Homo sapiens: one gene and its partners. The protein of the gene in region 7 purifies or fractionates together with the protein of the main gene of each other region. This does not show direct contact. Each region holds a gene or a part of one and is shown on either strand. Other genes may lie near its edges. The genes, in order: GNG5, CCNY, PTPRG, TRIOBP, CCNYL1, ERICH5 and FYTTD1.

What was found.
Region 1: the proteins of FYTTD1 (region 7) and GNG5 purify together in Homo sapiens (affinity purification with mass spectrometry; 2 studies listed by BioGRID and IntAct, with this or other methods). This does not show direct contact.
Region 2: the proteins of FYTTD1 (region 7) and CCNY purify together in Homo sapiens (affinity purification with mass spectrometry; 2 studies listed by BioGRID and IntAct, with this or other methods). This does not show direct contact.
Region 3: the proteins of FYTTD1 (region 7) and PTPRG purify together in Homo sapiens (affinity purification with mass spectrometry; 3 studies listed by BioGRID and IntAct, with this or other methods). This does not show direct contact.
Region 4: the proteins of FYTTD1 (region 7) and TRIOBP purify together in Homo sapiens (affinity purification with mass spectrometry; 2 studies listed by BioGRID and IntAct, with this or other methods). This does not show direct contact.
Region 5: the proteins of FYTTD1 (region 7) and CCNYL1 purify together in Homo sapiens (affinity purification with mass spectrometry; 3 studies listed by BioGRID and IntAct, with this or other methods). This does not show direct contact.
Region 6: the proteins of FYTTD1 (region 7) and ERICH5 purify together in Homo sapiens (affinity purification with mass spectrometry; 2 studies listed by BioGRID and IntAct, with this or other methods). This does not show direct contact.

Annotation. Positions count from the first base shown.
Region 1 is NC_000001.11:84,500,704-84,503,581, forward strand, and holds part of GNG5 (guanine nucleotide-binding protein G(I)/G(S)/G(O) subunit gamma-5), read right to left. Parts: intron 1,268-2,878; coding exon 1,142-1,267; 3' UTR 1,123-1,141; intron 1-1,122. UniProt on the Homo sapiens protein: Guanine nucleotide-binding proteins (G proteins) are involved as a modulator or transducer in various transmembrane signaling systems.
Region 2 is NC_000010.11:35,532,009-35,535,508, forward strand, and holds part of CCNY (cyclin-Y), read left to right. Parts: intron 1-3,500. UniProt on the Homo sapiens protein: Positive regulatory subunit of the cyclin-dependent kinases CDK14/PFTK1 and CDK16.
Region 3 is NC_000003.12:62,271,571-62,275,070, reverse strand, and holds part of PTPRG (receptor-type tyrosine-protein phosphatase gamma isoform 1 precursor), read right to left. Parts: intron 2,126-3,500; coding exon 1,990-2,125; intron 1,374-1,989; coding exon 1,227-1,373; intron 1-1,226.
Region 4 is NC_000022.11:37,728,048-37,731,547, forward strand, and holds part of TRIOBP (TRIO and F-actin-binding protein), read left to right. Parts: intron 1-3,500.
Region 5 is NC_000002.12:207,714,640-207,718,139, reverse strand, and holds part of CCNYL1 (cyclin-Y-like protein 1), read right to left. Parts: intron 1-3,500. UniProt on the Homo sapiens protein: Key regulator of Wnt signaling implicated in various biological processes including male fertility, embryonic neurogenesis and cortex development. Activates the cyclin-dependent kinase CDK16, and promotes sperm maturation.
Region 6 is NC_000008.11:98,067,568-98,071,067, reverse strand, and holds part of ERICH5 (glutamate-rich protein 5), read right to left. Parts: intron 1-3,500.
Region 7 is NC_000003.12:197,773,883-197,777,382, forward strand, and holds part of FYTTD1 (UAP56-interacting factor), read left to right. Parts: intron 1-266; coding exon 267-328; intron 329-3,044; coding exon 3,045-3,119; intron 3,120-3,500. UniProt on the Homo sapiens protein: Required for mRNA export from the nucleus to the cytoplasm. Acts as an adapter that uses the DDX39B/UAP56-NFX1 pathway to ensure efficient mRNA export and delivering to the nuclear pore.

The DNA of each region.
Region 1 (2,878 bases), on a different chromosome or scaffold from region 7:
TGGTATTTCAAAAAACTTAAACATCTTAACCAATCATTGTATTTACTGGAAACATGTACTTATACAGACTTCCTGGACACTCCCAGGTCTAGGAAGCTTAATTAAGGAGGGCACAACTATGTAACAAGGTATTTTAGGAAGCAGCTTCCTGGACTTTGGAGAAGTCAGAAAGTTAGTAAGGGGTGTGTGCCATATACAAAATCTTTTTTAAAAAAGTACTATTAGTTTAAGTTTGCTTCTCATAGGTCAATACTAATGAGTACATTCCCTAACTAAAGTACTAAGAATTTATAAAAGGCAGCACCCTTCAGTTACATTTTAAATGATCCAAAACGTTTTTGGTCACATCTCTTAGATTAACATACATTTTGTACACATGACATTTGATCTGGAAGGCACAAATTAATGTACTGAAGCATGCTTTAATAAAGCCAACAGGGTCTTTAGTTTTTAATTCTCTGAAATTCAGTCCACTGTCTGTTTGCCACCAAGAACTTATATACTGCATTTCCTTCATGTTTTATCTTTAATCTAACAAATGAGAACAAAATATAAAGTCTGTTCTACCTCAGTCCAAACGCCTCTACCACACTGGCTTACTCAATTACATCTGACTTTCTCTTGCATTTCCAATTCCCAATCTTTGCTATACTGCTCTACAGCTGGGTTCAGTTAGAGCAATAACATCAAGAGTTAATCCAAATCAGTTGGTAGTACTTTAAGTTATCCCCATAAACATTGCAGATTTTTTAAAAACTGTCTAAATATTTGCCAGGTACACAAAAACAAAACTAGTACTTGGGGACTCCATTAGGCCAATGCTCTAAAAAGTAACACATGGCTTGTTACGGCAGTGGGATTTTGTAGTAACTCTCCTATACCCTCTTTATGGTTATTAAATCCTCTACTTAACCTTCTTTATGGTAAAATAGAAACGATTAGCCTTCATGGCTACTAAGTCAGCAAGTTTCATGAATCCTCACTTTCCTTGCAAAACAGAAAAATACTGGAAATGGAGGGCCAAAGGAAAGGGCATGGGATGATCTTTTAAGTGCTGCAAAGAAAGAGAAGACTAGTTATTCCTACAGTGTGGGTTTTTGTTTTAAATTTAAGGAAACTTACCTTTGAAAGATTCATTTTACTACAAAAAGGAACAGACTTTCTGGGGTCTGAAGGGATTTGTACTTGAAGATACTCCAGTCAGCAGAGGGTCATGTTGAGCATTCTGCAGACAGAACTGTTTCAAGTCTGCAGCTGCCTGGGAAACCTATACATAACAAAGAGGGGGGGAAGTGCCAGATGGTGAGAACATTTTAATGAAGGTTTTCTCAATCTTTGGAAATATTGTACTTACAATAAAACAGTACTTCTCTTGCTTCAAAAGAAGATACTATATAATAATTGAAGACTTAAGTCAAATAGTGAGCTCTTTTTTTTTTTTTTTTTTTTTTTGAGACGGAGTCTCACTCTGTTGCCAGGCTGGAGTACAGTGGTGCGATCTCGGCTCACTGCAACCTCCGCCTCGGTTCAAGCGATTCTCCTGCCTCAGCCTCCTGAGTAGCTGGGACTACAGGCGCACGTCACCACGCCCAGCTAGTTTTTCTATTTTTAGTAGAGACGGGGTTTCACCGTGTTGGCCAGGATGGTCTCTCTCTCTTGACCTCGTGATCCGCCCACCTCGGCCTCCCAAAGTGCTGAGATTACAGGTGTGAGCCACCACGCCCAGCCTAGTGAGCTCTTAATACTTAAAACTAGTGCTTGCAAATAAGACTGATTTAATTAAGTATGTTTTCTTTTGCTTGGTTACTAGAAGCATCAGATGACTGAGTACAAACAGTAGAATTATGTTGATTTTTGCAAAGCGTAGCACATCTTGCTTATTAATAATAGGCTGTTCAAGTGCAAACCTGAGGGTACTTAACATCTTATTAAAAACATTAAGGGTTAAACAAAAAGCAATAACATTCTAGCAAACTATTACTTTGTCTTGAAAGCAGTATTACTGGAAAAATGCTACTGTGAATGAACATAATGTGGGATAACTAGCACATAATTTAGAAAAGCCAACACTAAGAATGCATTCAGTATACTGATCCTCAAATTTATCAGACCCTTATACTGTCTTGCATTTAAACTAAAACAAATTAAAAGAGGCATGCATTCATTCACTTAGACATCTACTATTTCTATATATTCTGCTAAGGTGATGTAGGATATAAACAAAATAACCATAAAGCCATTGAAGTTCCTTAAGTCCTGTTTGGGTGGCTCTGTATATGTATATTAACACTTAAATCATATTTAAGGCAATAGTTTCTTAAAGGCAGGCTGCTCAGAAAAACTGTTAAATTGAAGTTTGCTAGCAGCCTTTCAGTCACGTGACACTGGGCAGAAATCTGTCACTGTCTAGTTTAATAACATTAACGGACCCGTTCAGACGTGGAACATGAATGACTAAAACATGCCCCAAATGCATCTAATATCTGAAGTCTTGAACTGAGATTTAAAAAGTGGGAGAAATACTCATTTATTTTATTCTCAGTCTTTATCCGCAAGGAGGCTGGGAGCAGGTGTCCAGTCCATCCAGCTGGATATGTGGCCTCAGGGAATTAATAGCATCACAAATGCTCTCTATACCAAGAACCCCTGCAGATTACAGCTGTACCTCCAACCTAATAATTCTTCATCCTAAGATGAATCTAAACGCTTATCGAATCTATTTGTGTGTTTTGCTTATACAGCAGTCCAGAGTAATGAGTTCCATAGGTTTATTAGCTCCTATGTAAAAGAAGTATTTTTACAAATGACTACACCCCCTCATCCCCCGCCTTCCAAAAGAAGTGTAGCTAAAGTAGGGGAACAATGGTGTCATTTTTCA
Region 2 (3,500 bases), on a different chromosome or scaffold from region 7:
TTTGTCCTATGAAATAGACTGGTGTTGACCAGGATACCAGTTTGTATGGGGGTCTTGTTGGTTGCAGCTGGAGAGGAGCAGCCTTGGAGGCCTTCGTGGTAGGTGCAGCCCTGCAGCCCATCCTCTGGTCTCTGCTGTCTGCTGAGGCTCATCAGCGCAGCTGCATGCTTGTGGGTAGAGGGCACAGAGACGTGTGCCTTGAGCAAGACTCTTGTAGGATTGTTCTTCCCTCCTCGTGTTCCCTAGAGTTAGAAACAGTCATTCAGGACAAGTCTGGCCTGGAGTTGACAGAGATGCATTCATTAAGCCCTTATTTTCACTGGGCATGTGTTTGGCATCTTGGCATGCTGCTCAGCAGGCAATGGAGGAGGAAGAGCAGTTAGCCCTGGCCGTGCTTCCCACACGGAGTAGGACTGCAGCCTGCTGTGGACAGAGAGCCTACAGGCCCTTCAAACACCCAAACCTACTTCACCCAAAGCAAATATTTCACAGCTTAATCAACTTCCTTTTAAAAGAGTAACAATAACTTAGATCACTAAGTGTATTTTTTAGCCTCCTAGAATATGCTGAAAGCTCTCCTATGGATACTGCCACATGAGGAAATTTGAAAGGGAGTGAGGTAATTGATTTGCACCTTGATGAGTTATGTAGAGGCCTTTGTGGTGTACCTGCAGCAGCTGGAGGAAGCCAGGCCTGCAGTGAAGTGGGCAGAAAGGCCTTGGCATCCAGCTGCCCCTCCACGAGGCCCTTCCCTTCCCTCAGGAGTCACCCAAGCTGACTGATCCTGAGAACCATGCATGGCACCCACTTTAGTCCTATGCGGTACTTCGACAACATGAAAAGCTCATTGCCTGTCTGAACTGGGATCTTCTGTTGGAAGGATGAGAAAGCCAGAGGCCAAGGCAGAAGGAGATATATTGGAAGGTCCAGGCAGGTCTCGCATATCCCTTGTCCTGTAGGTCTGGAAGGACATCAGGCTGTAGAATGAGGCCCACTGCAGGTTTCTCTTCCTTTGGGCTGCTTCTCTCACCTTTGCGCACTGCTGTGGCTCTGGGGCCTTAATGTGCAGGTCGGCTTTCTTGCTTCGGATGGGATGTGGCAGGACAGTATTAATAGCTTTCCCCACCCTTCATCACCTCTCCGTTTAAGGCCGCACACCCTCTAACCCAGTCTCCTCTTTCAGTTTTGGAGAGGGGAGATTTTGACTGGCCCCAGTTCCTTTGGGGTCAGATGTTCATCTGTAGAAAAATCAGTCATGACCCAGAGTTGAAGGAGCTTGGTCCTGCTCTTTTTTTTCTCACTTTGCACGCTCCTCTGTTCAGAACCTGTGGTGGTTCCCATCTTCCTCAAAGGAAAACACAAAGCCCTTATGTTACTGACGGGGCCTAGCAAGATTAAGCCTCCCATCTCTGCCCAGCTGCCTCCACTCTCCTCAGTGTCATGCTGCAGCTGCTCTGTTCCCTGGATGTACCGGACACACACCTGCCTCGGGACTTCTGCACCTCAGGACTTCCTCCACCCCTTGGCACCCAGCTCCCTCTGTCCCAGGTGTGTTTGAGATGCGTCCTGCCCTCCTCCTCCCCATCTTTGCTCAAAGGGCACATCAGGGGGCTGTTGCCTGGCCACCATATCTGAAGTTGCAACCTCCCTCCTGCACCGCACTCCCTGCTCATCACTTCCTGCTTTTTCTCCACTTGCTTATCACCTGTCAGCATGCTTTAGGTTGAAGTCATTAATTTTATTGTTTTGTCAGTAAGCCCCATGCGTAAGAAATGTCTGGTCTTTTTGTCCATGTGGTTTACTACAATACGACCAACATCTGGAACACAGCCCAGCTCATAATGAATGCTCAGTAAGTATTTGTTGAACATGTAGTGAGCACAGTAATAACTGCCTACTGGCTGAAGTACATGGTGGTGATGTGCCTGAAACATAAGGATCATTTAATACCTATTTATTATCTTCCCCTGCCCCAGTAGTTTTAGAACATTGACACATTTCATTTCATTGCTTAACTTTTTTTTTTTTTTTGAGATGGAGTCTCACTTTGTTGCTCAGGCTGGAGTACAGTGGCACAATCTCAGCTCACTGCACCCTGCACCTCCCAGTTTCAAACGATTCTCCTGCCTCAGCCTTCTGAGTAGCTGGGATTACAGGCTTGCGCCACCATGCCCTGCTAATTTTTCTTGAATTTTTAGTAGAGAAGGGGGTTTCACCATGTTGGCCAGGCTGGTCACTCCTGACCTCAAGTGATCTGCCCACCTCAGCCTCCCAAAGTTCTGGGATTACAGGCGTGCGCCACCACACCCAGCCCTGCTTAAGCTTTCTGAAGGGACAGAAAAAAACTCGTCAACTTCGGGGACATCACTCAACTGAACCTTGATTGAGCATTCCGTGTGAGGTTAGTTCTGTCTGTAGAGCCACAGCAATGGGAGAGGGAGAAAGAGAGGAAGTTGGTGATTGATGGAGGGATTCCGGCATAAGGGAAGGGGAACCAAGAAGAGATCGAGGTGGCAAAGTGACAGCTGACCAGACAGGAGGGGGTGTGGTCCCTTTCTTTATTTCCTATTTTTTAATAGCTTTATTGGGACATATTTTATATACCATACAATTCAGCCATTTAAAGTGAGCATTTTAGTGGGTTTTAGTACATTGTACAACCATCACTACAACCTAATTTCAGAATATTCCCTTCACCCCATAGAGAAACCCCTTACCCTTTGGCATTCACTCCTCGTTCTTAGCCTCCACCCAGGCCCAGGAAACCACTAATCAAATTTCTATGTCATTTGCCTATTCTGAACATTTCATATCAATAGTATCTCATATGATAGTTCATGATTGGCTTCTTTTACTTAGCATATGTTTTTGGGATTCATCCATGTTGTAGCATGTATAGTATGTCCTTTTTTATTGCAAATAATATTCCATTGAGTGGGGATACATACACACACACACACACACACATATATATATATAGATCTATATATATGTGTGTGTGTGTGTGTGTGTGTGTGTGTGTGTATGTATATATAGATCTATATATATGCTGCAGCCCTAATCCCTGTTGGAGTGAACAAAGGAGGATGAACGTGAGAATAAAGACAAAGACAAAAGAATGTATTTGGAAGAAGGGGTCAGGGGGCTCCTTGCTTTTAGTGAACAAGGGCCCAGAGCTTCTATAGCCCTTCGTATTTATTGAGTAAAGGAGATACAGAGAAGGGGGTGGTTGTCAGTCAGCTGCTTGACTTAGAGCAGGCCTGCACAGCTGCATTCTCTGAACAGTAGTCTCTAGATGTTCCAGTAGATAACCTCAAGGAGCACGGCACCAGGGAGTGATTACACTCAACAAACCTTCTGGTGGCAGGTGCAGTTGTGAGTTTGCCCACATCCTGCATTCATGATAAACAGTTTGCTGTTTGATCATATAGCCTCCAGTGGAATGCTGAGTTGGTCACAACCCACAGGCTTTTGGCTCTCTCTGTCTCTCTCCCTATATG
Region 3 (3,500 bases), about 140 Mb from region 7:
GATGCTTTAGTAAAACTCATGGTCCCTGGATATAATTTTCATTTTCAAGTTTGATTCTTGTTTTTTTCTTCATCTTGAGCTCTAAAATGGTTAGTGCCTGTAAAAGAACCAACTACCTGGTCGCATTTCTTAAATGAAGTTTTAAAGTATGTATAAAAAAAAATTGAAGAAACGAAAAAGGCAGAATTTAAGAAATGTTGGTACTTAATATTTTGTAAGAACTCATGTTAAACATTTAAAATGATACACTGTGTCCTCATTATTAATTATCTCATGGTTTTATAGTAGAATGTTAATGGGGAGCTAAAAATTTTTAATTTTATGACTGAACTCAGTGAAATTAAACTATTTTTCATTTCATATCACTTGGTATAATTTGCTTGGCAGTCTCATTTCTTCAGCTGAGATTCAAATGAAAGTTTCAGTCTATGGAAAGTTTTACCATGAAAACTAAAACTGTAGATTCATCTCATTCTTTGAATCTTGATACAAAGGGAGAAACTATTTACATACAGAACAATGTGCAAAATAGAATTTAAAAGACAAAGATAAATAGGAAAGCACTTGGTAACTGGAGAGACAGGCGATGTTTGAAAGTTAGAAGCAATTTTGATTTATTATCAGATGACTGAGCCCTAATTATTTTAATAGTCCTTATAATCTCTCTTTTTCACCTTCACTTCAGTCAATTCCATATAAACCTTAACCGCTTTTAAGCTTCTTCATGTCCCTATCAAAGAAAAAGAACAACCATTTAGGAAAAGTTAACTTTTCTCTAGTATTGTTTAGTAATTCTTTTTAAATTCCTAAATTATCTTCTGAAATAGTTTTTGAAATAGGCATATTTTTAGGACAATATGTCTACAAGTCATCATTCTTAATAATTAAGGTAAGATAGATTAGTTCAGAAAAAATAGGACATTTTTTGGACTAAACGAGTTACTTTAAAGTACTATGTCATTATGGCCAGGGGCTGATGTTTATATTCAGATAAAGTCATAAATTGCTCAGAAGAAAATACAACACTGTATATCTACTTGAATACCAACAATTCATACATAGGTCAAAACCGTATTTTCTTTTTCATCACATTTAAGGAGTACAAGGAGTACAAATAGTAATCCATTTCGGTGTATACATTAATGCAAAGAAGACATAACCCCCAAACTCAAGGCATTTAAAACATTTTCTTGCTTTATGCCAAAGAAACTTTTTCAAAGCACTACCTTGAATTGCTTTTCCAGTCGTGTCTTTCCTCCTACTCCTGGTATAAGGATGCTGTTAACATAGCTGTGCAGCTGATTTGAAGATACTTCAGTCTCCTTTCCAAGAATGGCTTCCAACAAGGCATCATGGATGAAAATGTACTGCTCCTAAGAGGTACAATACATGGTAGTCACTGAGGGAGTGTTAAGGGTTAGCCACTCATTCATGAAGTGTACCTTAGTTTAATTCTGCTGCTAACAGGGACCTCCCAGTGATTTCCTTCAAGCACTTACAGCTAGGTGATTTGCTCCAATACTCACTTTATCAGTCTTAACTTATTTTACGGTAGAGACTGTGTTAAGTTTAGCTCTGTATTCTATACTGTGCCTGGATCACGGTATTCTATACTGTGCTTATTGCTTCAACTCAATAAGCAAACAAAAAATCGTGTTCAATGAAGGGTTTTAGAACCATCCTCTCCTATGTATTTCTCAGGCCAGACAACATGTTTAACTCCCCCTACCATCTAACACAGCTCTTGAAACAACTGTATCTCTTTCGTAAGTACTTGTGTAGTTATTTAGGAATCCAAATGTTAAGATCCATACAGAAATGGAAAACTGTGATCCGTAGAATAGGATCATTGTCAGAATATCTTCTAATACAAACCTGTAAATTACTGCAAGCCCTAAAAGAATGAATCTGTCTCTTCATTATCATTTAACAAATTTCAGTTACAGCATTTGCCAGAATGTCGTGAGGACGCTGGCAGCTACTCCTTACCTCAGTCTGGACGAGGTAGTTACGCTGTGTCCTGATATGCTTCAGGAATCCCAGGACGTTAACTGTGCTTTTGTCTTTTATCTGTTGCAGCATGCTGTCTATTACAATATAGGTGCCTGTTCTGCCCACACCAGCACTGTAAGAAATGAAGACACTCAACTGGCACTTTTGTTTTATCATACTGTTAACTTTGGATTCGAAAAATTCCAATCTAAACCCCATTTATTTTATTATTTTTCTGAGATGAGATGGAGTTTCACTCTGTTGCCCAGGCTGGAGTGCAGTGGCGCAATCTCGGTTCACTGCAACCTCCGCCTCCCAGTTCAAGCAATTCTCGAGCCTCAGCCTACCGAGTAGCTGGGATTACAGATGTGTACCACTACACCCGACTAATTTTTTATCTTTAGTAGAGGTTTCACCGTGTTGGCCAGACTGGTATCGAACTCCTGACCTCAGGTGATCTGCCCACTTTGGCCTCCCAAACTGCTGGAATTACATGTGTGAGCCACCACTCCCAGCCTAAACCCCACTTAGATAACCTTAGATGACGTACGTTATTCACTTAGCATTGCAACATAAATCACAGAACAAGCGACATGTATTTGAGTACCAAAGTTTAAAACAAACAAAAAAGAGGCAAGAATGCATTTTCAAATGAAACAGAATAAAAGCATTTTTAAACAACCAACTAAAGTCATTTACTGTGGCTGACAAAAAACAAGCTTTATACAAGGATTTCCCAGTGCTTTTGAAAAGGTATTTTATATGGAACATTTAAACTAAAAATTTAAAAATGAAATATTTTCATATATACTATAAATATTGTTATTTAGAAGAACCTTTCAGAAAAGCCATTTACAAAAACACAATCTCTATTCTAGTGTGGAAAGTTCTTGTGTTTAACGTCATATTTTTATTTATTAGGATCAGGCTACAATTTTCCTATAAACAATGGGGATTTTGTAATTTTTTCTTTTTTTTTTTGAGTCATGATCTTGCTCTATCATCACCCAGGCTGGAGTGCAGTTATGTGAACACAGCCCACTGCAGCCTTGACCTACTGGGTTCAAGGGATCCTTCTGTCTCAGCCTCCCATGTAGCTGGGACCACAGGCATGTGCCACCATGCTGGCTAATTTTTTTATTTTTAATTTTTGTAGAAATGGGGTGTCACTTTGTTGCCCAGGCTGGTCTCAAACTCCTGGGCTCAAGTGATCCACCCACCTCAGCCTCCCAAAGTGCTGGGATTACAGGAGTTGGCCTCCATGCCTGGCTGATATTATTAATAAGAAGATTTTATAAAAACTAGGGATTGATCTAGTTTTTTAAAAATCACAGAAGCAGCAGATGATTTCTTAATGTTACAGGAATAGAGCCTCTTTAAGACTATCATAGGTCTTATCCATCCCAGTTTCCAGTGGAAGATTCAGCTTCTAAGTGAAAGCAGTAGCAATCATTGTGGTCCAAGGTCACTGAGGCCTAAGTCCCCTGCCCCATCTATTTCACATGTTG
Region 4 (3,500 bases), on a different chromosome or scaffold from region 7:
CATCACCCTAAAGGGTATGGAATATTTTGTATCTAAAATTCCTCTTTGCTGCTCCTTGGGAAAGTTTTCTCCTGGATTTGAATCTGCATGAGAAACCTTATCAGTCTTGGCTGGGTGCAGTGGCTCCCTCCTGTAATCCCAGCACTGGAGCTTGCAGTGAGCCAAGATCATGCCACTACACTCCAGCCTGGGTGACAGAGTGAGACTCCGTCTCAAAAAAAAAAAAAAAAAAAAAAATTAGCCGGGCATAGTGGCACACGCCTGTAGTCCCAGCTACTCAGGAGGCTGAGGCAGCAGTATTGCCTGAATTTGGGAGGTGGAGTTTGCAGTGAGCTGAGATTGCGTCATTGCACTCCAGCCTGGGCAACAAGAGTGAAACTCCATCTCAAAAAAAGAAAAAAAAGAAACTTTATCTCTTGTTCTTCAAATTTCCTTTTCCAGTAAGCTTGATCATTTAATATCCAGATGACAACCGTGTGGTCTCCAGCATTAGTATAATTCTTTCTTTGGCCTTAAAAACAAAAACCCAGAGCAGTTTTAGGTTTACAGCAAAATTGAGCAGAAAGTGCAGTGTTCCATGCACAGCCTCTCCCACTACCAATATCCTGTACTAGATAGGTATGCTTGTTTCCAGCTCCTGGCCTCAAGGGATCCTCCTTTCTTGGCCTCTCAAAGTGCTGGTGAGCCACTGTACTGGGCAGTAGGGTGATACATTTGTTACAATCCATGAACCTACACTATGAAATCACCCAAAGTTTAGGGTTCACTCTTGGTGATGTACAGCCTATAGGCTTGAATGAATGTATGACAAGTATCCACCATTGTAACATCATGGAGTAGTTTCACCCTGAAAGTCTTCAGTGTCTTTAACTTTTTTTTTTGTTTGGAGATGGAGTCTCGCTCTGTCACCCAGGCTGGAGTGCAGTAGTGCAATCTTGGCTCACTGCAACCTCTGCCTTCTGGGTTCAAGCAGTTCTCCTGCCTCAGCCTCCCGAGGAGCTGGGACTACAGGAGCATGCCGCCACATCCGGCTAATTTTTTTGTATTTTTAGTAGCGACAGGGTTTCACCCTGTTGCCCAGGCTAGTCTTGAACTCCTGAGCTCAGGCAATCTACCCACCTCGGCCTCCCAAAGTGCTGGGATTATAGGCGTGAGCCACCGTGCCTGGTCTGACCTTTTTTTTTTTTGAAACAGGGTCTTGCTTTGTCACCCAGCAGTAGTGCAGTGGCGTGATCATGGCTCACTGCGGCCTCAAACTGCCAGGCTCAAGCGATTCTCTCACCTCAGCCTCCTCAGTAGCTGGGACTACAGGCGTGTACCACTATACCCAGCTAATTTTTCTACTTTTTGTAGAGATGGAGTCTCACTTTGTTGCCCAGGTTGGTCTCAAACTCCTGGCCTCAAGCAATGCTCCCACCTTGGCCTCCCAAAGTGTCTTTGACCTTTTTATGATTACTATTTCTTGTCTAATGTCAATTTTCCTAACTTTGTCTTAACTAATAACTCAGCAGGGACATTAAGGTCTTTAAGCCAAAGTTAATTAATTTTCTTTCCTTTTTTCCAGGATAATTTCAGAGAGATAAGGTGTTTATATTAATAATAGAAATGAGAAATATGTTTACACTTTTATTAACCATTTGTTTTTACACGATCACTCCTATACATTTAATTCTACTCTCTTTGAAATAGCTTATTTACCTTTTAGGGAAGTTTTCATAATTTTACTGAATAATTAAAATTTTTCCTCTTATCTGGCACCTTTTCCAAGTAGAAAACCATTCATCCTCTGAATATGGAAAATTTTAAAACTGTGCAGTGTGTGTGTAAGGGACAGACTGGAGCTTATGAGCGGGTGGCTGTAGGAGTGTGCTTTTATTTTCTCCTATTTCCTCATCGATATGTATTTATTGAGCATCTACTCTGTCCAAGCATTGTCCCGAGTCTGGAAAATTTTTCTTAAAGGGTTGTCACATCAAAGCATTGGGAGTTTTGGCTTGATCTTAATTTTTTTTTCCTTAGATGCCTTTGGCATCTCTTAGAGTCACGTAGCATCCTGTGGTCATTTGAATTCAAAACCTAGCCTTCACTGGATTTGCTAGACTTGATGGCTTTGCTCCTTTAATTCTCTCTGGAGGTCGAAGAACCCATCTAAGCTTCCGAAGGAAACGTTTCCTTTGTCATGCTTGGTGCGGCCACATCAACCCTCGGGAACAGGTGGCCCCGAGGAGACGCTGTTGCTTCAGCATCGGACAAGCCAGGTCTCTGTTGGGGTTTCAGAATCTTCTTGAGTCCCTCACTCTTTTCTCTCAGTTCTACATGGGGGAAAAAAGGAAGGCGAGTTCTCAGGAGGAATGCTCATCAAGCAAGCTGGAGTTCGTATGGAAAATGCATCCATCCGGAAGAGAACACACAAGTGCCTTGCTTCCCTGCACCGGGTGTTTCCACTATTGTCCTCCTGGTCCTCCCCATTAGGGAGGAACAGCCCACTGGGTCACGTCTGGGCTCTTGCTTCATCGAAGCTCCTATACCCCAGTTCGGGGGAAAATTCACTCTAAGGCCTTCAGCTCTCACAGAGTAAGGAAACGCACTCACCTCCAATTAGATTACAAATTGGCTGGGTGCAGTGGCTCATGCTTGTAATGCCAAGACTTTGGGAGGTCAAGGCAGGTGGATTACCTGAGGTCAGGAGTTCAAAATGAGACCAGCCTGGCCAACATGGTGAAACCCCGTCTCTACTAAAAATATAAAAATTAGCTGGGCATGGTGGTGGACACCTGTAATCCCAGCTGCTCAGCAGGCTGAGGCAGGAAAATCACTTAAAACCAGAAGGCGGAGGTTGCAGTGAGCTGAGATTGCACCACTGCACTCCAGCCTGGGTGACAGAGCGAGACTCCATCTCAAAAAAAAAAAAAAAAAAAAAGTTACAAACAGCCTGCCCAGGGAGCCCTCAAGCTCAGAAACACTTCCTCCAGGGAACTTTGGTTCCTCTCCGAACCAGCTGCCAATAACTGCTAACAACTAACATTATTGTGCTTTATGGCTCTGATTCTAATGACATTGGCAAAAGACATGAAACAACAAAAAACTCCAACCCCATACTTTTTTTTTGAGACAGGATCTTGCTCTTTCACCCAGGCTGGAATGCAGTGGCATGATCATGGCTCACTGCAGCCTCAACCTCCCAGGCTGAAGCGATCCTCCCACCTCAGCTTCCCAAGTAGCTGGGACTACAGCCACGTACCACCATGCTCGGCTCATTAAAAAAATTTTTTTTTCCTAGAACAAGGTCTCATTCTGTTGCCAGGGCTGTCTCAAACTCCTCGACTCAAGTGATCCTCTGACCTCAGCCTCCCCAAGTGCTGGAATTACAGGTGTAAAGACACTGTACCTGGCCTCCCAACCCCATATATATATATATATATTTTTTGAGACAGGGTCTCACTATGTCACCCAGGCTGGAGTGCAGTGGCGCGATCTCAGCTCACTGCAACCTCCACCTC
Region 5 (3,500 bases), on a different chromosome or scaffold from region 7:
GAGGTTGGGAGATCGAGACCATCCTGGCTAACACGGAGAAACCCCATCTCTATTAAAAATACAAAAAATGAGCCGGGTGTGGTGGCACGTGCTTGTAGCCCCAGCTACTCGGGAGGCTGAGGCAGGAGAATCGCTTGAACCCAGGAGGCGGAGGTTGCAGTGAGCCAAGATTGAGCCACTGTACTTCAACCTGGGCGACACAGTGAAGATTCCATCTCAAAAAAAAAAAAAAAGAATTAAAAATATTTCCCAGGCTATAATCCTCCAATGGTTTCCTATCACAACTAAAGTCTATATTCTTTGCCAAGGCCCACTATACACACATGGCCTTAACCCACCATAGTCCTGGCATCCTTTTCACTCTTCCGCAGCCACCCTGTGTCTTTCTGTCCTTGGCCAAAAACAAGTTTGCTCCCATTCAAGGAACTCCAAAGTAACTGTCTGTGTGGACCCCTGGCTCTCACCAACCATCCTCACAAGGCTCCCTTCTCACTTTAGGACTGCTCACAGGTCACGTAAGGAGAGCAGCCATCTTTCATCCCCACAACCCCCATGTAACTGTCCTCCTCCCCAATCCATGACCCTATTTTACTTTTCTCCCTAGCACCTCACCACCTAACATTCTTGATTATTCATGTATTATCTATCCCTAGCTCCCTCCAGAATGTAAGGATCAGAGTTAGGATGAGGTTCTGTCTTGTATACCACTGTCTGCCCTAAATCTGGAACACAGCCTGGCCACCTAAAGGTACTCAATAAACATCTGTTTCAGCACACCCAAAACTAGTCAAGTTTCTCCCAGTTTTCCCACATCTTTTAATATTTCTTCTAACATTCTCTCTTGATTTGTCATCTAATCAAATCTTTTAAAGTGGTAAGCATCAAATCTTTTAAAGTGGTAGCTATTCAGAATTAAAGATGCAAGATAGGCTACCAAGAAACAAAAAATATTAAATGATGAATTCTAAAGTCCAGGGAAAAGTCAATGCTAACTCCAATTTGACATAAGAACTTTTTTTTTTTTTTTTTTTGAGATGGAGTCTCGCTCCGTCACCCAGGCTGGAGTGCAGTGGCGTGATCTCGGCTCACTGCAATCTCTGCCTCCTGGGTTCACACCATTCTCCTGCCTCAGCCTCCCGAGTAGCTGGGACTACAGGCGCCCGCCACCACGCCCGGCTAATTTTTTGTATTTTTCGTAGAGACGGGGTTTCACCGTGTTAGCCAGGATGGTCTCGATCTCCTGACCTCGTGATCCACCCGCCTCGGCCTCCCAAAGTGCTGGGATTACAGGCGTGAGCCACCACACCTGGCCCATAAGAACATTTAATACTAAAATATCTTAACTACAAAATGACTCAACCCATAGATTTAACTGAATTCTACAGGGAGGTACAAGGCATCAGTCATCAAAATATGTTTTTATCGGTACCCTTGAAATCAAATGTAATGAGACTGTGTATGATGTTACTAGAAAAGATGCCCAATCATAAAGGATAGGTAAATAAATGATACTCCAACCATCTGATGGTACATTAAGCAGTTACTAGAAGGCATGCGATAGAGCAGGGTGTCCTGGCATGGAAAGATATCTTGGAGCACTCTCTGGATGTCAAGCAGTGATTCAGGAATTTATGACATTATTTCACTGCTGTAAGTTATGAAGCAGCTCATATAGAATGATCTCATTTTTCTAAAATAAAATGTTATATTCATATGCATACCATAATCAATGACTTTTCTGTATTCTCTATGTCTTTTACATCAAACATATTATTCAAAAAAGCAAAAAAAAAAAAAAAAGAGAGGGCTTAAAATAGCTACTGGAAAGAGGAAAGATCTGTTGCTCAGAGGTTTTTCCACATTACATTGCCAATTCTTTCCCTACCTTCACCCATCAGTGGAAAAGAATAGAAAGAGTCACTTCAGAGAGCGCCTTTAGCCAGCAAATTAGCAAAGCTCCTAACGTCAGAACATAAAATGCTCCATGAAAAGTCAAGAGTACTAATAAAATCGGACAATAAGATCTTAGTATCTTATTTTGTGTTACTGATACTACCGTCAGTTATGTTAGACATACCGTTAAATAAAGGCAAGGTAGTAGAAAATACTTTGAGTCTATCTGAAATGTTTACTAGGTTCTTAGGAGCATCTCTTAGCTTGACGAGACCAGGCGTGGTGGCTCACACCTGTAATCCCAGCACTTTGGGAGGTTGAGACAGGTGGATCACCTGAGGTCAGGAGTTCCAGACCAGCCTGGCCAACATGGTGAAACCATCTCTACTAAAAACACAAAAAATTAGCTGGGCGTGGTGGCACACACCTGTAATCCCAGCTACTCAGGAGGCTGAAGCAGGAGAACTGCTTGAACTCTGGGCGCAGAGGTTACAGTGAGCCGAGATCGCGCCATTCCACTCCAGCCTGAGCAACAAGAGCGAAACTCCATCTCAAAAAAAAAAAAAAGGCCAGGCGCGGTGGCTCACACCTATGATCCCAGCACTTTGGGAGGCCAAGGCAGCTGGATCGCTTGAGGTCAGGAGTTCGAGACCAGCCTGGCCAACATACTGAAACCCTGTCTCTACTAAAAATACAAAAATTAGCTGGGCATGGTGGCATATGCCTGTAATCCCAACTACTTGGGAGGCTGAGGCAGGAGAATCACTTGAACACGGGAGGAAGAGGTTGCACTGAACCAAGTTTGTGCCATTGCACTCCAGCCTAGGCAAGAGTGAAGCTCTGTCAAAAAAAAAAAAAAAAAAAAAAGAAATAGCTTGAAGAACAAAGCCGAGCGTCATTTATGTATGATTTTTGTCTAAGTAACAAAAATAATTCTTCATTGTAGAAAAGCTAAATTTTTTGTTTGTTTGTTTGTTTTGAGACAGAGTCTTGCTCCACTGTCCAGGCTAGAGTGCAGTGGCACGATCTCAGCTCACTGCAACCTCTGCCTCCTGGGTTCAAGTGATTCTCCTGCCTTAGCCTCCTGAGTAGCTGGGATTACAGATGCCCGCCACCACACCCAGCTAATTTTTGTATTTTTAGTAGAGACGGGGTTTCACCATGTTGGCCAGGCTGCTCTCGAACTCCTGACCTCGTGATCCGCCCACCTCAGCCTCCCGAAGTGCTGGGATTACAGGCGTGAGCCACCATGCCCAGCCAAATGTTTTACATCTCAGTAAGAATTTCTGTTTCCAGGGAGACTGATATAAAATTGTCTGAAATAAAGATATTAAAAGCAAACTTTCAATGTGTCTATACTTTATATTTGGTGTTCTGGCCATGTTTCTATGGAAACTTATGAATAATAGGCAAATGCCGAAATGGAGATTTCTATTATCACTTTATTGAATGCCACAAAAATAAATTTTGAGACAAATTGAAATAAAAATGTAACTGTCATACTAACATACAATGGTAAATTCTGTGCTTACAAATTCTCTTTTTCCAACTTTTCTGATTTAGCACTCTTTATCATCATCCCATGCTTAATGCCTGGTACCTTACCT
Region 6 (3,500 bases), on a different chromosome or scaffold from region 7:
GGTCTTGAACTCCTGACCTCAGGTGATCCACCTGCCTCGGCCTCCCACAGTGCTGGGATTACAGGCATGAGCCACTGCACTCAGCCCAGAAGCATGATTTAATGGCAGACAATCAAGCGTTGTTTTACAGTGCTAACCTTTTCCTGCATAGCTAGGAGGCTCTATACACAACCCGACACTCTTTCTAAGCCCATCTTGGCCAATATTACCTTTCAGTTTCTGGTATTCATTAGGTTCTGATTCCTCCTCTGCTTTTCTGAGTAATACTCTTACCTCCCTGAATCCCCGTCTCTGTCAATCACCCATTCACCCATCCATCTACTCAACAGTTATTGCTTGCTTTTTTTTCTTTTCTTTCATTCTCTTTTCTTTTTCTTTTCTTTTCTTTTTTTTTTTTTTTTTTTTTTGAGATGCAGTTTCACTCTTGTTGCCCAGGCTGGAGTGCAATGGCGCGATCTTGGCTCACTGGTTCAAGCGATTCTCCTGCCTCAGCCTCCAGAGTAGCTGGGATTACAGGCATCAGCATACCAGTAAAAAATTAGCCACCACACCTGGCTAATTTTTTGTATTTTTAGTAGAGATGGGGTTTCTCCATGTTGGTCAGGCTGGTCTCGAACTCCCAACCTCAGGTGATCTGCCCACCTTAGCCTCCCAAAGTGCTGGGATTACAGGGGTAAGCCACTGCGCCCGGCCTCTTTTTTCTTTTCTTTAGAGAGAAGTCTCACTGTGTTGCCCAGGCTGGAGTACAGTGGTGCTTGACCTCCTGATTCTCCCACTACGGCCTCCCAAGTAGCTGGGATTACAGGCTCGAGCGTCCACACTCAGCTGATTGCATATGTTCTATGTGTAAGGCCACACTACAAGTTTCTTGCAGAACTAGGACCAGATCCCAGATGGAACTGGAAGTTGTGAAAAGAACAGGGGCTTTGGAGTCACACACATTAGCCATGTGCCCCAGGTCCATCCATCCATCTAGTAAGTAGGCTTACTAGACCTACTAGCTCTGAGACCAGGGCAAGTGACTTATCTGTATTAAGCTTCGTTTTCTAGCTGTATTTGGTGCAATTAATGTTTGTGTTTTAAGGCTATTGTGAGGATTAAATAAGATCACAAACTAAAGCACCTGAAACCAAGTGCATGCTCCCTCCTTATCTCCTGACTTCTGTCCCATGTGTATGTTTCGATGTGGCTGCACAAATGTCTGAAAGTTTTCTGTTTTAGAAAAAGATTTACTTTATTGTTGATGACAGTGTAAACTGCTTCAAGTCTTACAGAACACATTTAGGCAGTTATCTATCAAAACTTTCAGTGCGTACACCCTTTGACCTAGTAATGCCACTCCTGGGAAACTGTCCTACAGATATACTTGCACACATTCAAAATGATGTAGGCACAAAGGAATTCATGGCAGTCTTGTCTGCAACAGGGAAAGACTGTAAACAAATTAAATGTCCCTCAATAGGGGGGCTGGTTAAATAAATCAAGGAACATATTATTATGCAGGTATAAAAAAGGAGAAAGAAGTTCTCTGCATATAAATGTGGAAAAATCTCCATAGTGTTAGGTGAAAAAAACAAAGTGAGGAACGGTGGGTATAGTACACTACATTTTATAAATAAAGATGAGAGAAGGAAATAATATTTGCAATGCATAAATAAACTTCAAAAGAATATATAAAAAAAAAAACCCTAAAATAATAAGTGTGTATTCACAGGTGTGATTCGAACTAAATAGATGATGAGGATGGGGTGGAAGGTATACTTTTCAGACCTGCCTTTTCCAAATATTTTCACATTTTTGAACCATGTATGTAGTTTTTTTATTCCATTTCAATTAGCCATATGCAATCGCCAGGCCTATCACAAAGACATACCAAATGCTATTTAAGTGCCAGGCTCCAGAAATGACACAAGGCACACATTTGAAAGAAAAAAAATCCCATTTATATAATTTCTATATGCAAGAAAAGCCTATACAAATTAAATTTAATGTTTATGATGTTTGTTCTTCAATTCAAAAGGAAAACTTTTGTCTAGTTAGGACCAGATGACCTAACTAGATGTCAGAGTGTGAAATATTGGGTGAAAACTGAAGGTATGACTGCAGTACAAAGAACAATTCACATAACTGTGAAATTCAAGCTTCATCTGATTGCCTAGGCCGCATGGACAGCAAGCAGCTAGTGAAAGTTCAGGTTAGAACAAACAAATGATTATAGCTGTCAGTGGAAATGTACACATTAACCTAGCAATGAACTTGTCAATAATTACCACCTATTTACTTTGTCCATGTTTGGTGCTTGGGCTGTAACACCTTGGAAAGAAGTCTGCCAAAACAGATCCCATTTATATTAGGAAAGATTCGAGCAGTGATTATCCATGTTAGCAGAGGGCTAGGAACACTGGGAGGAGGGTTTGGATGTGAACGTCTATAGACACCTTCAGGCACATTAAGGTCTGTGGAGTCAATAAAACCTTTGTGTTCAGATTGCATCGGATCCTCAGGACACTCAAAACAACAGAAATTGTCCTAATATTTAAAACTTGCTTCCAAAAACACAAGAAATTCCAAACTCAATCTGTCTAATTATCCTTTGGAATGAAAAGTCTCTTTCCTCACACATTTCAGGGCACGTCATAAAAATCGATGTGTGACTACCACATATTAGGCACTGTTCTACGCTGTGAGGAGCACTAATAATTGTTAACAATCAGAGTCTTCACCTCTGTTCTCCCAAACACACACACCTATCTGGTCAGTCATCTTGGGAGGTGATAGGAAGCAGCTCCGTGAGATTCAGTGTCTAATGGGTCAGGGCAAATGTCCCCACATAATCAGTAGAATAGATTATTCCTGTGCAACCTAATGTCTACCTACTAGTAGCTGCTGTCTGATTTAAATTTATAACATAGGCTGGGCACAGTGGCTCATACCTGTAATCCCAGCACTTTGGGAGGCCGAGGTGGGAGGATCACTTGAGCTTGGAAGTTCAAGACCAGCCTGGGCAACATAGCAAGACCCTGTCTCAATTTTTTAAATAAAAAATAAAATAAATATATAATATTTGTATAACACATTATACTATATATCTTATTTAGGGATTAGACTAATATTTAGAATCATAATAAGGGATTATTCTATCCCTAAATAATATATATAGTATAGGCCACGCGTGGTGGCTCATGCCTATAATCCCAGTACTTTGGGAGGCTGAGGCGGGTGGATCACCTGAGGGCGGGAGTTCGACCAACATGGAGAAACCCTGTCTCTACTAAAAATACAAAATTAGCCGAGTGTGGTGGCACATGCCTGTAATCCCAGCTACTCGGGAAGCTGAGGCAGTAGAATCACTTGAACCCAGGAGGCCGAGGTTGCAGTGAGCCGAGATCATGCCATTGCACTCCAGCCTGGGCAACAAGAGCGAAATGCCGTCTCAAAAAAAAAAAAAGATACATAGTATAATTTGTTGATTGTATTGTATTGATTTCATTGTTTTTAGA
Region 7 (3,500 bases):
GGGTTAGGAAGTTCTAGAATAGCGCGGGCCCCTCCGCAGCACTCACGCACACGCCCCACTGGGTTAGGAATTTCTAGAATAGCGCGGGCCCCTCCGCTGCACTCACGCACACGCCCCACTGGGTTAGGAAGTTGTAGAATAGCGCAGGCACCTCCGCTGCACTCATGTACACGCACCACTGGGTTAGGAAGTTCCAGAGCAGGATCGCTCTTTGGATTCAAATCCTCTGCTTTCTGTGGTACCTACTGCTTTTTTTTTCCCTTCAGGTGCAGGCCCAGTTGAATACAGAACAACTGCTAGACGATGTAGTAGCAAAGAGAACTCGTCAGTAAGTTTCCATTTGTTTTTTAAGATGTTATTTCAAAACTCCCAGAATACTAACTACCCAAATTATCATGTACCTCAGTCCAGAAGAAATTAATTGAAACCCAAAATAAAATTCAGTCTGAAAGCTGGGCATAGTGGTGCTACACACCTGTAATCCCAGCTAGTTGGGAGACTGAAGCAAGAGAATTGATGGAGCCCAAGAGTTCAAGGCTGTGAAGTGCCATAATGTCACCTGTGTATCGCCACTGCACACCAGCCTGAGCAGCATAGCTCGATGCCACTGCACACCAGCCTGAGCAGCATAACTTGATTGCCACTGCACACCAGCCTGAGCAGCATAGCTCGATGACCAGTGCACACCATCCTGAGCAGCATAGCTCGATGACCAGTGCACACCAGCCTGAGCAGCATAGCTCGATGACCAGTGCACACCATCCTGAGCAGCATAGCTCGATCGCCAGTGCATACCATCCTGAGCAGCATAGCTCGATCGCCAGTGCACACCAGCCTGAGCAGCATAGCTCGATCGCCAGTGCACACCAGCCTGAGCAGCATAGCTCGATGGCCAGTGCACACCATCCTGAGCAGCATAGCTCGATCGCCAGTGCATACCATCCTGAGCAGCATAGCTCGATGGCCAGTGCACACCAGCCTGAGCAGCATAGCTCGGGCTATGGAGACTGTCTCCAAAAAAATTTTTAAACATTGAGGCTAAAATAAATAAATCTTGTTTTGTCCTTTGTTAATTTTCCCCAAAAACCTTTTGAGTTTTCATGTGTCGATATTGTAACAGTTTTAGTGCCACGTAGATTACTTCATTTTTATTATTTTTATTTTTTATTGGCTATACCATTTTAATGAAACAGCTTTTTCTTTTTCTTTTTTTTGCTATAACTGCTTTCATACAAATGAACCTATTTAGGGAATGAATAGAATAAAATTCAGTGGAGCTTTTAGAACATTTGTACAACTTTAAAAACAATAGTTTTCCTTTTCACAGTCTTTTTTTCTTAGCCCTATAAAAAATCTTTTGAAAACCTATTTTATCCTGTTATAATCACACCTCCTAAGTGTGAGTTGTAACATACTAATTCCATCAGTGTGATTAGGTTTTGAGATTAAACTATTTAAAATTATGACTACTTTTTGGAAAATAAAATATATACACTTGGCCCTCTGTGTCTCAAGGGAATTGTTGCCAGGCCCATTGAAGAGATTAAAATCCTCAGATACTCAAGTCCCTTTCAGTCGGCCCTCCATATCCGCGGATTGTCTCTGTGTCTCAGGGGAATTGGTTCCAGGCCCACTGAAGAGATTAAAATCCTCAGATACTCAAGTCCCTTACAATCGGCCCTCCATATCCGTGGATTGTTTTCATTCTGCGGTTGCAACTGATTGAATACATGGACGTAGAACCTGTGGATACAGAGAGCTGGCTGTAAAACATGGTCAGGGCCCAGATATGGTGCCAACTGTGGTGCATGATTTTTAGCAATTGGAGTGTTAGGAAACTGTGAAACTGATACAGGTGGTATTCTTTAGCACAGGGGTCATGACATTAGAAACCATGGGGAAAGAAATAATAATTGTAGCCTTTTTGCTTCTGCAGTGAACAATATTTACATAATTGTGATCATATAAATGTTATTTGTTTTGAACTTTGAGAATCAACCTGTTAGACAAAGCACAAAATAGTTAATTTGAGAACAATATAATGTAAATGTCCGATTTTGACTAATGTGAATATAAAGGAAGAGCTGACAGAAAGTGAGAGGTACAAACAAAGGAGCAGAGGTGGAGGGAAGGAATAGAGGCACTATTATCCTTTCACATAAAGCTGGGGGTGGGTTCAAGAGATTCTGCTGAAAGAAACAGAGATTTAAGTATTTTCAGTTACAAAGGCCTGGAAATAGTGATACAGCCATCAAAATGTTTCATGGTGGGTAAGGAAACTGGAGGATAGTTTGACGAACTAAATCTTTATTCATCATAGCAATTTTTTTTTTTTTTTTTTGAGATGGAGTCTCGCTCTGTTGCCCAGGCTGGAGCGCAGTGGCACAATCTCAGTTCACTGCAACCTCCCCCTCCCGGGTTCAAGCAGTTCTCTGCCTCAGCCTCCTGAGTAGCTGGGATTACAAATACCCACCACCACACCCCACGCCCAGCTTAAATTTGTTTTTTTTTTTTTTTTTTTTGGTAGAGATGGGGTTTCACTATCTTAGCCAGGCTGGTCTTGAACTCCTGACCTCATGATCCACCTGCCTCTGCCTCCCAAAGTGCTGGGATTACAGGTGTGAGCCAGTGCCCGGCTGCAGCAAGGTTTTTTTTTTACTATGTAAGCATCTTGTTTAGTGAATTGGAAGTAACCAGAAAGCAGTAAAAACAGGTTAAAAGTGCTGCCTCTGGAGAGTAGGAATAGAAAGCAGGAGAATAGTGGGGTGAGGGACTGTTGCTTTTTATTAGAAGTTCTTTTGTACTATTTGATTTTTTTAAATTTGTATACATTTATTACACTGAAAAATATTTAATAAATTAATTCAGATGCCCAGTTCCGCACCCAAGATGTTGATTTATTATATCATGGTGGGGTTCAGGTACTTATTTCTTACAAGCTAAGAAAAAGTAATGGCTACTTTTAATGTTCATTTTTATTTTGAATATACATAGGGTTTATCAACTTACATTTAATGAATTTTTTTTATTTTTTTTGAAACTAGATGGCGGACTTCCACCACAAATGGAGGGATTTTGACTGTATCTATTGACAATCCTGGAGCAGTGCAATGCCCAGTGTAAGTTGTTTCTTTCTTTTTGCAAAAATTATAACCTCTCATTACATGAGATCATAAGAAAGTATTGGACTTCTGCTCAGAGAATGATGTCCAAGTTGGGATGAACCAGGAAGACAGTAATACCTGTGATACAATATGGAAACAGTATATGGTGTAAAGTAAAGTAAGAGCTTTCTTGATTCCTGATTCTGCAGCCCTAAATGACCACGTTGGAACAGTGTTTTTTATGTTTTAAAAATTATGTGCATGTATACTCTGTGTACCCTTTTTTTGGAGGCAAGGTCTGGCTCTGTTACCCAGGCTGGAGTGCAGTGCCATGATCATGGCTTATTGCAGTCTTGACCTCCCAAGCTCAAGCGATCCTCCTGCCTCAGCCTCCCG